Regions from separate parts of the Homo sapiens genome. Here region 2 is linked to region 1. The links come from fine-mapping of genetic effects on gene expression. A gene starts in region 1. The other region holds a variant in brackets. All regions are shown on one strand. Distances are between the middles of the regions.

What was found. PIP is the estimated chance that this variant, and not a neighbour inherited with it, causes the effect.
Region 2: its variant is fine-mapped to the expression of SLC12A9 in whole blood (INTERVAL, PIP 0.98).

Annotation. Positions count from the first base shown.
Region 1 is chr7:100,851,466-100,854,367 of GRCh38, forward strand. SLC12A9 (solute carrier family 12 member 9) reads left to right here and starts at 1,248. Exons shown (of 14, transcript NM_020246.4): 1 at 1,248-1,370; 2 at 2,691-2,902. The coding sequence starts at 2,733. SLC12A9-AS1 (SLC12A9 antisense RNA 1) reads right to left here and starts at 1,149. Exons shown (of 2, transcript NR_146550.1): 1 at 1,049-1,149. RefSeq lists enhancers at 465-664, 735-884 and a silencer at 1,175-1,484.
Region 2 is chr7:101,022,933-101,025,834 of GRCh38, forward strand. All of the region lies in intron 1 of MUC17 (mucin 17, cell surface associated), which reads left to right. Among named protein-coding and RNA genes, the nearest start is that of MUC17, 4.3 kb to the left of the region's middle. The variant C/T (reference allele first, on the strand shown) is at 1,367.

The DNA.
Region 1 (2,902 bases):
CTGGCTGGAGTGCAGTGGTGCGATCTCAGCTCACTGCAACCTCTGCCTCCCAGGTTCAAGCGATCCTCCTGCCTCAGCCTCCTAAGTAGCTGGGACTGCAGGCGCATGCTTGAGTTCAGGAGTTCCAGAGAGGCCTGGGCAACATGGCGAAACCCGGTCTCTACAAAATATTTAAAAATTAGCCAGGCGTGGTGTGTGCCTGTGTAGTTCCAGGCACTGCGGAGGCTGAGGCAGGAGGATGCTTGAGCCGGAAATGCAGAGGTTGTAGTGACACGAGATCGCGCCACTGCACTCCAGCCTGTGTAATAGTTCCTGGATCAAAAAAAAAAAAAAAAAAAAAAGGAAATGTATCTGAAACTTTCCAAGCTCCAATTTCCTAATCTGAAAAATTGAAATAGCGGTACCTACCTCACAGAGTGGCTAATTTAATGCAGTGCTATTTGCAAGGGATAATTTATCAAACCTTTAGGCGTTGTTCTAAAGTGCCCATTAAATGCTCACTGAACTCACAGCCTTAGGAGGGAGGTTCGAGTTTATGCCCATTTTACATATGAGGACGCGTTGGCAGGTGGTACTGCTGTTCATGGGATCTGTAAAGAGTGAAGAAGGAGTCTCAGCTCTCAGTAGAGTTCATAGGCTCTAGGATTTCTGCTGGAAGTGAGAACACTGCAGGGAGGCAAGAAAGCGGGCATCAGACGGTGCAAAGCGACCCTGGGCCCAGATCGGCGGCCAATGGCTCCCTCCGGTGGCGGAAGCGAAGAGCGCAGCTGGATCGGGCGCGAAGGGAGGATCCCCGCAGCGGGTGAGGGGCGAGGCTGGGACCCGGTGGAGGTTCTAGGGTTTTGAGAGGTTGGAGGACTAGAACTCCAGAAGTCCCTGAACGAAGTGGGCCGGATTTCCCGTGACGCACCTGGCCCAGGTGTTGCAGCCCCGCCCACCTCCCTGCCGCTTTCCGCCATCCTCACACGCCCCCTTTAGTGGGGTGGCTGCTCACCGCACCTCGGAGCTCGGACTGGGGTCCGGCCCCTGCGGCGACGATTGTTTGTACCTAAGTGAAGGAGGCTCCGAGACCCGCGGCCCACGTCCTGCCGGAGACGCTTGTCTGCAGGGCTGCATTGCATCCCCGGGCGCACGTGGAGCTGGAGCAGCGCAGGCTGGGGAAGAGCAGAGAGGGTCGGGCTTCTCCGGGCGCGCCATGGGGCGGGGCCGAGGACGGGGACCAATAGCGCGCGCGTGCTGGTGGGGGTGGGGACAGGCTCCAGGCCTGGCATCCCGGTAGCCGCAGCTGTCTTTTCCGGCCCCCGTGCACTCTCCGCCCGAGCGGAGCCCCCCGGCTCGCGGGGATCGCCCCCGAGCGCTGCGTCCTGCGGGTGGGTGAGTGAGCGCCTCGCGGCCCCCGAGCTGTGGGGTGCACCTGGCCGGGGAGAAGGATATCTTGGCTCCCTTGCACCCCAACGGGCGCAAAGGGGCAGGAGCCCGGATTGGGGGAGGAGGAGGACCCGGGGACCTTGTGTCGCTCGGTGGGAGCCGGTCTGTGTTTCTGTTTCGCTAGGGTGTGTTTGGGTTGGTAGAGTTTGTGGGGAGGGGTGCCTCGTGTGGATGGGAGGAATCGGGGAGGCTAAGGCGAGGAGGAGGGGGTTTGAGATGGGTTGAGGGAGAGGATTGACGGAGGGTGGGGTTTTGAAAGAGTTGGAAGTTTCTTGTTACCTGTGGGTGCGGTGATTGCATTGGGGGGCTTGGTAGGGGCAGCTCAGGACACCGAAGGAGAGGATGGGGAAGGCTCTCCTGCCCGTAACTTACTTCCCTTTTGGGAGATTTGGTTCCTCTTGCATTGCTAGTTAAGGAAGGAGAGGCTGGAGAAGCCTGTGCCGTCAGAGAACCTTTGCCCCTTTCCAGAACCGGTGCCATCCCTAGTCTCAGGAACATAAGGGAAGGGGTGGCCCCCAGGAGCCGGGAGGGGCCTTGAAACCCCTGCTGACAGGTTTGGGGTACCACTTTTTTGTGGGGCAGTGGCTGGTACCATTTGCAGCCCACGGACTTTTTTGAGTTGCCGGTAAGCAGGGTGTGGGTGCGTTCCTGTTTCCTTGCGGTTGTCTCTTTTTTTTTTTTTATTGACACAGGGTCTCGCTCTGTCACCCAGGCTGGAGTGCAGTGGCATGATCTCGGCTCGCTGCAGCCCTACGCCTCCAGGACTCAAGCGATTCTCGTGTCTCAGCCTCCCAAGTAGCTGTGATTACAGGCATGCACCTTCACGCTTGGCTAATTTTTTTTTTTTTCTTGTGAGACGGAGTCTCACTCTGTCACCCAGGCTGGAGTGCAGTGGTGTGATGTCGGCTCACTGCAACCTCTGCCTCCTGGGTTCAAGGGATTCTCCTGCCTCAGCCTCCCAAGTAGCTGGGACTACAGGCATGAGCCACCATGCCCAGCTACTTTTTGTATTTTTAGTAGAGACGGGGTTTCACCATGTTGACCAGGGTGGTCTCGAACTCCTGACCTCAGGTGATCCACCTGCCTCGTCCTCCCAAAGTGCTGGGATTACAGGCATGAACCACCGAGCCTGGCCAATTTTTGTATTTTTAGTAGAGAGCAGCTCTGTCTTTTGGGGAGGCTTCAGGGTGTTTGATTAGTGGTCTTTGGGGGTGGGCGAGCTCTGTGGGGGAGCTTTTGATGCAACATAATCTCCTTTGCAGGTCACCTAACCCATTTGTGGCTTCCTCTACCTGTGCTCAGCCATGGCCAGCGAGAGCTCACCTCTGCTGGCCTACCGGCTCCTGGGGGAGGAGGGGGTTGCCCTCCCTGCCAATGGGGCCGGGGGTCCTGGAGGGGCGTCTGCCCGGAAGCTGTCCACCTTCCTGGGTGTGGTGGTGCCCACTGTCCTGTCCATGTTCAGCATAGTTGTTTT
Region 2 (2,902 bases), 170 kb after region 1:
TTGCTCCCTGGGGCTGTCATTATAAAGCACAGCAATCTCCGTGCCTTACAATAACAGAAATGGATTGCCTTGCTGTCCTGGAGGCCAGAATCTAAAACCGAGGTGTCACAGGGCCATGATCCCTCTGAAGTCGCCAGGGAAGGGTCTGTCCCAGGCCTGTTTCCTGGTTGCGGGTGGTTGGTGGCAATCTCTGGCGTTCCTGGGCTGGTAGACGCTTTGCCTCCATCTTTACTTCATCTCGCTGTGGGTGTGTCTGTCTCTGTGTTGGGTTAGGACCCATGCTAGTGACCTCAGTTTAACTCGATCCCCTGCAAAAACCCTATCTCCAAATAAGGCCAACTTCTGGGGCACTGGGGATTAGGGTTCAGTTCAGCTCACAACAGAAAGGAATGAGGGGAGACCCTGCCGGGGTGGGGCATGAGGAGCAGACCTTTCAAAATTAAAAAGAAATATTTTTGGTTTTTATATTTTTTTAAGACATGGTCTCACTCTGTCCCAGGCTGGAGTGCAGTGACACTATCTCAGCTCATTGCAACCTCTGCCTCCCAGGTTCAAGTGATTCTCCTGCCTCAGCCTCCTGAGTAGCTGGGATTACAGGCGCCCACCACCTGTAATGCTGGCTAAATTATGCCTGGCTAATTTTTGTATTTTCAGTAGAGACGGGGGTTTCGCCATGTTGACCAGGCTGGTCTCGAACTCCTGACCTCAACTGATTTGTCCACCTCAGCCTCCCAAAGTGTGGGGATTACAGGCATGAGCCACTGCCCCTGGCTGATACAGTGACTTGTTTTCTTTTCATTAGATACCCAGTAGTGGGATTGCAGGATCAAATGGCAGATTTACTTTGAGTTCTCTGAGAAATCTCCATACTGTTTTCTATAGAGGTTGTACTGATTTACTTCCTGTCAGCAATGTATAAGCATTCCCTTTTTACCACATCCATGCCAACATCTATTTGCAGTTTTTTTTTTTGGCTTTTTAATAACGATCACTGTGACTGGGATATATTCTATATCTCATTGTGGTTTCAATTTGCATCTCCCTGATGATTAGTGATGTTGAGCATTTTTTCATATGCTTGGTGGTCATTTGTTGATCTTCTTTTGAGAAGTGTCTGTTCATGGCCTTTGCCCACTTTTTGATGGGAGGGAGCAGGCTTTCTTTTTTTTTTAAAAGAGAAATTGCTGACCAGGAGTAGTGATTCATGCCTGTAATCCCAGCCCTTTGGGAGGCTGAGGCGGTGGATCACTTGAGGTCAGGAGTTCAAGATCAGCCTGGCCAACCTGGCAAAACCCCATCTCTACTAAAAATAGAAAAATTATCTGGGCATGGTGTGACAAGCCTGTAATCTCAGCCCCTCAGGAGG[C/T]TGAGACACGACAATCACTTGAATCTGGGAGGCAGAGGTTGCCGTGAGCCGAGATGGCATCACTGCACTCCAGCCTGGGCGACAAAGTGAGACTCTATCTCAAAAAAAAAAAAGAAAAAGAAGAAATTGCTAATAGCTGGAACAAAACGGCAAGGGAGGAAACAAGTGAGGAGAAGGGGGGTTGTGACCGCAACTGCTTCTGCCTCCTTCTCTTCCATCCCCATCCTCCCACCTCCCATGGCCCTCCAGTGGGGAGGTAGTTGCCTGGTCTGCGGGGCCTCAACCCAACCCATTGCCCTAACCTTCTGAGATCAGATGAACGCTTTGGCTTCAACATGAACAATCTATTTCTCTGTAATTGGTCAAAATTAATGGAGAATAGCACTTGAGCACTGATCTTTTATTTCACTCCCAAACCTCCTCCCTGCTCTGTCTCCTCCTTTTTTTTTTTTTTTTTTTTCTGAGATGGCGCCTTGCCCTGTCGCCCAGGCTGGAGTGCTGTAGCGTGATGTCAGCTCACTGCAACCTCCACCTCCATCTTGATGGGAGGGAGCAGGCCTTCTTTTAAAAAAAGAAATCGTTGACCAGGAGCAGTGGTTTATGTCTGTAATCTCAGCATTTTGGGAGGCTGGCACACTCTGTCTTAGGTGACTGACCACGGCCACCAGCACCCCACTTGAGGACTGCACTCCAGCCTGGGTAACAGACGGAGACCACGTCTCTAAAAAAAAGAAAAATTTAATGGGTTTGGGGAGAACAGAGCCAACATAAAAACAATTAGAGGACCAGGCATGGGTGGTTCATGCCTGGAATCCCAGCACTTTGGGAGGCTGAGGTGGGAGGATCGCTTGAGCCCAGAAGTTTGAGACCAGCCTGGGCAACACAGGGAGACTTTCATCTCTACAAAAAAATGTAAAAATTAGGCATTGTGGTGTGCGCCTGTGGTCCCAGCTACTTGGGAGGCTGAGGTAGGAGGATCACTTGAGGCCAGGAGGTGGAGGCTGCAATAAGCCATGTTTGCACCACTGCAATCCAGCCTGGGTGACAGAGGGAGACTCCGTCTTAAGAAAAAAAAAAAAAGAGGCTTGGCATGGTGGCTTACACCTGTAATCCCAGCACTTTGGGAGGCCAAGGCAGGCGGATCACTTGAGGCCAGGAGTTTAAGACCAGCCTGGCTAACATGGTGAAAATCTGTCTCTACAAAAAATATAGGCCAAGCACAGTGGCTCACACCAGTAATCCCAGCACTTTGGGAGGCCAAGGCGGGCGGATTGCATGAGGTCAGGAGTTCGAGACCAGCCTGGCCAACATGGTGAAACCCCGCCTCTACTAAAAATACAAAAAAATTAGCCAGGTGTAGTTATGTGCCCCTGTAATCCCAGCTACTCAGGAGGCTGAGGCAGGTAAATCTCTTGAACCTGGGAGGTGGAGGTTGCAGCGAGCCAGGATCATGCCACTGCGCTCCAGCCTGGGTGACAGAGCGAGATCTCTCTCTCAAAAAAAAAAAAAAAAAGCTGGGCATGGTGATGCATGCCT